2 linked regions of the Homo sapiens genome follow. The protein of the gene in region 2 interacts with the protein of the main gene of each other region in a biochemical or structural test. Each region holds a gene or a part of one and is shown on either strand. Other genes may lie near its edges.

The links. Proteins that work in one complex are often made in the same cells at the same time.
Region 1: the proteins of KPNA4 (region 2) and MEF2C interact in a test that uses a peptide from one of them, tested with the Homo sapiens proteins (one large-scale study listed by BioGRID and IntAct).

Annotation. Positions count from the first base shown.
Region 1 is NC_000005.10:88,873,185-88,876,684, forward strand, and holds part of MEF2C (myocyte-specific enhancer factor 2C), read right to left. Parts: intron 1-3,500. UniProt on the Homo sapiens protein: Transcription activator which binds specifically to the MEF2 element present in the regulatory regions of many muscle-specific genes. Controls cardiac morphogenesis and myogenesis, and is also involved in vascular development.
Region 2 is NC_000003.12:160,555,572-160,559,071, forward strand, and holds part of KPNA4 (importin subunit alpha-3), read right to left. Parts: intron 1-3,500. UniProt on the Homo sapiens protein: Functions in nuclear protein import as an adapter protein for nuclear receptor KPNB1. Binds specifically and directly to substrates containing either a simple or bipartite NLS motif.

The DNA of each region.
Region 1 (3,500 bases), on a different chromosome or scaffold from region 2:
ATGTTTGCAACGAATATACCATCCAGTGACTCTAAAGCTGCTGTTGTTCTTTACAAAGACATGATCCTATAGCCCTGGCTATTTCAAGATCAGTGTCCGCAGTTGTTTCAAGACATGGCATTGGGCTGTGATGAACCACATCAGTTTCTCAAGTGTAAGGAGGTAAGTTAGCATCTAAAACAATTCTGTCGCCCATGTGTAGTCAAAACAAGTTAAAAGTGCACTTGCTTTCACGATACCAAATACTTTGAAGCAAGAAGGAAGCTCAGACAGGAGAGAATCCAAAAACAATGAAAACGGAAGGAAAAAACACTGAAGTCAAGAATTCTCTGATTTTTTTGAAGCTATAAAATGAGAGAAGCGGAGGGAAAAAATCACATAACGCTCACTCTAAATCAAGCAAGATCAAACAGTCTTGGAAGGGATATTGCCGATTCATTTCAACCCAAGAGTCATAGGGAAACAATTAATGGGTACTGAGTATCTTACTCAGCCTTCTGCAAATCTATCAATGTCGTCACGGATTTTTTTTTTTTTTTTTTTTTTTTTTTTTTGGTTTATGTAAAGGGGGAAATATTCAAACATGAAATGAAAGAAAAAAATAGTCAAAATTATTTACTTTAACTTCTAACCTATATAGAGTCTAAGTGAACTTCCAATAAATACTAGAAATAAAAAAAAGATTCACTTAAAAATAGACAAATTTGTTAGATTTCATTTAGTTAAGAAAAATCATCCAGAATAAATTAGGTCTGGATTTATATAGTACCTTTTAAAGATATTAATGTTAACTGTAATAGAAGGGTGAAAAGATCTACTTTTTTAACCACATAAACCTTTACAAAAAGACCACCCAACAACTTAATAAGGCTCCTCAAATATGGATGAAAATCCGGTACCTTAAAGAAGTAATTGTTTTAATGGTTAACAGAGTTTAAAATTTCCCAAATTCTTGACCAGAGAATTACTTACTAGGCGAACCTCTAATAGAGTCAACGTTTTAATCGGGTATAGTTTTATCATACTTAAATGGCAAGATAGCGAATTTTCTATTTTAAAATTTCTATTCCATACATATGTTCAATAGTTGAAACTTTACAATGTATCTGACAATACCAACGGGTATGATTCAAATGACCCTACTGTTCCAGAGAATTTCCAAGAAAATAAAGAAATCTCTTACAATAGCCTAAATAGAAGCATAGTTTTAATTTGAATTTTTAAATGTGTGTAATTTTCTAACAAATAAATGTCAGAAAGTATTGACTCATATATATATTAGCATTTACAAAACAAAGTTTAACATCTTTTTCCTCCCTTGCTAATGGGTCTTGAAAAAGTGCCAGGTGTAGGAATATGCCATTGTTATCATATTCTTATAAGCTGCCTTATACATTTTTTAAGATCTATGTTGTATTAATTTCTTAACAATTTATCGGGAACATTTGCATTCACAGAAAAATAAATGCTTGATATTTAAACATAATTAAAATTATCATTCTTATCTATTTAAGTTTCAAGAGAAATAAAATTAAATTACACTTAACTGTTGGTCTAATTTGGTAAATTTCATATAGGCAATTAATAATTAGTGTAGTGGGTTAACAACTAAGCTAACATTTATACACTATTCATATACTGTTAAATCAATAATTTAGTTTAAAAATAAAATTAGAACAAATATTTATTAAGTGGTAACACTTTCTCCTGAAGGCTCCCATTTAATACATTTCTAAAGAAGAAGGCTAGTTTTAGAAAGGTGTGCTGGCAATAATCTGATTGCACCTCATACAAATGAGAATTCTACTGATTGAAAGGAGCCATGGCAGCTAGAAATTATTTTTTAATAGGATTTTTTAAAAATCACATGGGTAACAGTTGAAAATGTAACTGGTAATTAAAGCCTGCTTCTTAACAAAGTTTTACTTTATTTTTTAAGGAGAAGTACAAGCTTTTAGACTATAGTTTCAGATACAAGGAATATTAGTGCAGATATTTAGAAGTCAATTTATTTTGCATGGTATTATACACAGAACTTACACTGTACCTTTCAAATGAAAAGCATAAAACAAATCTGAAAACTAAAAGCTCACATTTTCTCCCCCTGTACTCTCTATTTTGACCTAATAATCATTTAAAGTGTGGGTGTTTATCAATAAAAATTTTTGCAGCACCACACATTGTGGTGGAACGTTGCTATTTCCCGAGATAAGTACAAAAAACCTCAATGCTAATTTGCATCACAAAATGATCTAACATATCTGGAATATAATGCACAAGCTTCATTGAAAAGAAACCATTATATTTTTCTTTTCGAAACAAAAAGTACAGATATCTGATTGGGTCTGGGTGTGCTGGAGGTAGGGGGTGGGGAAGAGGTCTCATTTTCTATCTCACACCTATTGTTTTATGTATTCTAAACTGCTATATGGGAATAAAAAGGAAACATACTGAATCCACTTTGCAGTTAATGTCTTAGTAATTTAAGAGGCAGAATTTTCAAGTTAAAGAAGGGAAACATTATACTTTTCCTTTCCCAAAGGTATTTCCCCTATTTCCCAGGAAGAAGGCCCTCTGTTCCTTACCCTATGTAGGGGGAAATAAAGGACATTAGTTAGGGCTGAAATCACTCCGAGACAGAAGAGGGGAAGTTTATGATGTGGCACTGTGCACAGTATCTGGTCTGCAGCCAGGAAGTTTTCATTTTGTAGCTCTGCTGCCAGTACCTGCCCTGCATATTCAGGAATAAAAATATACCAGAACTCTACCTGAAAAACTGTGGATGTTACAAAGAATTAAAAGAGTTTATTTTTCTTTCTTTATCCTGAGTGTAATTACTGTTTTTTAAAAAGAAAGAGCTGAAACTGTAGTAACTGGAGTTTTTTTTTTTTTTTTTTTTCCTTTTTAAACTCCTCAAACTACCTTCCCACAAAGCCATTTAAGTTAAATGGTACATTTACAGACTCACCTACATGAAGGATATAACTTAAAACATCTGCTTAGACACATACGTTCTGTTCAGATATAAAAAATGTGGCAAAAATTTTTAAAAATATAGGACCACTATATTCTTAAAATGTGTGTTCTTCTGTGTGTGTGTGTTCATTCATTCAAGAGATCTTTGACTGCAATTAGGTAGTCGGTCCTATAAAGGCTTCCTTGTGTGACGATAATTTCTAAAAGTAAAATGCTCCAGTGAATATTTCTGCTAAATAATCATATCTTAAAATTACTTTAAAGAAATTCCAATCCCTCATGTTACATTAAGCAATAATGCCAGTTTTCCATAATATGCCTTAGTTGTACCACCTTATTCAGGGTCGACAATTAATTAGAAGACAAAAAGTATAAATCGCGTGTTTATTAAGTAGCAGACAAATTTCTTTGTCTGTCTCAACATATTTACATTAATGTGTTTATTTTCTAATTTTGAAAATAAATAAGCATATTTAAGCCAAAGCTGCCTGTCTTCGGGGTTTGGGGAAGGATGCACATTCTCT
Region 2 (3,500 bases):
AATATATTGTAAGAAAAGTCATGTGAATGTGGGATCTCTTTCTCTCTAAATATTAATATCTTGTTGTATCACATATTCACCTAGTTTCTGATCACAGTTGACTGCAGGTAACTAAAACTGCAGATAAGGGTGAACTATTATACTTCATTTTATAGCGGAACAATACTCCATTGTATGCATATACCATACTTTGTGCATTCATCAGTTAATGGGTATTTGGGTTGTTTCCTTCTTTTATTTTATTTATTTAAATTATTTATATTTATTTATTATTTTTGAGAAGGAGTTTTGCTTTTGTTGCCCAGGCTGGAGTGTAATGGCCCGATCTCAGCTCACTGCAACCTCCACCTCCTGGGTTCAAGTGATTCTCCTGCCTCAGCCTCCCAGGTAGCTGGGATCACAGGCATGCGCCACCATGCCTGGCTAATTTTGTATTTTTAGTAGAGACGGGGTTTCTCCATGTTGGTAGTGCTGGTTTCCCAACTCCCAACCTCAGGTGATCCGGCCCGCCTTGGCCTCCCAAAGTGCTTGGGATTACAGGCGTGAGCCACTGCGCCCAGCCAAGTTGTTTCCCTCTTTTGGCTGTTATGGATAATGCTGCTATGAACACTCATTTACAAGTTTTTGTGCAGACATTATGTTTGCAATTCTCCTGGATTTATATCTAATTAGTAGAACTGCTGGGTCACATGTTAACTGTTTAACTTTTTGAGGAACTGCCAAACTGCATTCCAAAGCAGCCGTACCATTTTACATTCCCATCAGGCATGTATGAGGGTTCCACTTTCTCCACATCCTCACCAACACCTGTTATTTTCTTTTTATATACTGCCATCCTAGTGGGTGTAAAGTGGTATCTCATCATGCTTTAGAGCTGTGTTTCCCTAATGACTAATGAGGCGGATCCTATTTTTTATTTGTTTATTGGTCTTAATTAAACTTTTCATCATTGAGTATCCCTTATGTGAAATGCTTGGGAACACAAGTGTTTCAGATTTTGGATTTTTTTGGATTTTAGAATGTTTGCATAATACTTAGAGACTGAGCATCCCTAATCCAAAATCTGGTATGCTCCAATGAGTGTTTCCTTTAAGCATCACGTAGGTGCTTAAAGTTTCAGATTTTGGAGCATTGTGGATTTCAGATTTTTGGATTTGGACGCTCAACCTGTACTGTCATTGTTTTAAAGCTGGAGAATAAAAAGGGAATTGGGAAAAATTATTCACAACATTAAGAGAAAAAACGTGAACAAATTTAAGGTGTCTGAAACAGCTGATCAACAATGAACCCAATTCTATAGATATATCTGTAGTAAAATGAACATCTCCACATAATATTCAAAAGTGAAATAAGGAACCAAACCTACCCTAAATAGGTAGGACTATAGGTGTGTGCCACCACACCCAGCTAAATTTTTTATTTTTTGTAGAGATGAGGTCTCACTATACTGCCTAGGATGGTCTCAAACTCCCGGCCTCAAGGAACCAAATCCTCTGCACTATTTTAAAAAGAGCTGGAGAATATTTGGGTTTCACACCTACTAAAGAACAAGGAGTGATGTTAACAATTATTTGAAAACCTTAAGGTATTATCTTGCTTGTTTTTCTGGACCAGTAACAGCTTAAAGTGGCTAAAAAGCCAGTGTGAAGAGGAAGAACAGGTGGCAAACAGGACAGGGCCATTTAATACAACCAAGCAGAGACCACTTAACATAGGTCTTTCGGGATAAAACTACTCAACTAAATAAATTTATGTAACACTTACCTCAAGGGTCCAGAAAGACATACTTTAAAAAACATAAAGAGTAGATATGTGCAAACTAAAGTTTTTATTAAAGAACAGGACACTGAGATAGACTATGATTTACCTTCTAATATTAGACAATATGTCCATCACTGAACTAGTAAAAAACATACTATCTTAGGATTCCGACTTTTGTTAGTAAAAAAATTCATGAAATTCCATGTTTGTCAAAATACATCATTAGTTAAAATCTAATTTACATTAAGTTTAAAGTAAATAAAAATTTAGGGAAAAAATGACAGGTGACTAAATTTTGTCCGAATAGTAAATAAACAGTAATAGAAAATAAGTCAGCATTTAAAAATTTCTATCTATCTGAGATGAGACCTCATTCTTGTCACCCAGGCTGGAGTGCAGTGGCATGGTCATAGTTCATTGCAGCCTCCACTTTCTGGGCTCAAGCGATCCTCCTGCCTCAGCCTCCTAAATAGGTATGACTACAGGTGTGTGCCACCACATCCAGCTAAATTTTTTATTTTTATTTTTTTGTAGAGACAAGGTCTCACCATATTGCCTAGGATGGTCTCAAACTCCCAGTATCAAGCAATCCTCCTGCCTCAGCCTCTCAAAGCAATAGGATTACAGGCATGAGCCACTGTGCCTGGGAAAGTTTAGCATCTTTAATAATCAACTTAATCTTGTATTACCAACAAATATCTATGACCTTAAATCATTTTCATTCTGGGTACTAAATAGTGTGAATTATAGTTGTTTTCTGATTATATTTACAATGTTTTGAGAAAACAGTGACAAAATCTACATAAAGCATTTAGTAACCCACTTAAAACATAGGATTAAAGAAATGAAGTCATAAACTAGTATGTATGTGACAATTTGGCTGAAGTATGTGGGAGAAAGTAGGTTTTCAGGTGACTGTTAAATAAGGGGAATAAGAAGCCTTCCCAAATTTGTATGATGTGGTTTGGATTATGGCACACAGAGGTACAAGAGGAATTTTGTAAGCAAAATGTTATTCTGATATGGAACATAGGGGTTTACTTGGATGCAATGTATGACTATGTAAGTTGGCAGAAATAGTAAGAGGTTCCATTTACTCTGCATGTACTTTATGCTAGGCATTGTTAAACATTTCAAAGGCTTAGACATAATTAAGTTAGCCTCCATAATTACTAAGTGGAGAAACCAGAGTTCAAACCCAGACCTAAGTGACTCTACAGTCCATGTCTTTTAACCCCTATACTATAAGGTCCTTTAAGAGCCTGTATTAATTAAAAGTGACACTCATGTGCAAAAGAAGCAATGGTAAACTAAAAGAGTGGCACTCAAAGCATGGTCCACGGGCCCCTATGTGGGTCCTGAGACCTTTACAGAGAGTACACAGGGTCAAAACTATTTTCCTAATGATAATACTAATACTTTTTTTAAAAAAAAAATTGTATTAACACTTGAATTGATGCCATAGGGGTAAGACTGCTGGTGCTTTAGAATGAATTAAGGTAATGACATCAAGATGCAATAGTTGTCACTGATTTCACATCTAAAATTTGTTTAAAAGTCAGCTCACTTAAGAATTCCTTGAGGAAACAGTAAAAAATGATTACTTTTATTAAATATTGGCCTTTTCTAATTGTGTGAAAAAAATGAAGATTACATATAAGCCACTTCTGCTGCATACCAACTTCTACTTAAGGACGACTGTCTCAAGGAAAAAGTACTTGTGCAACTGAGTTGTGAAC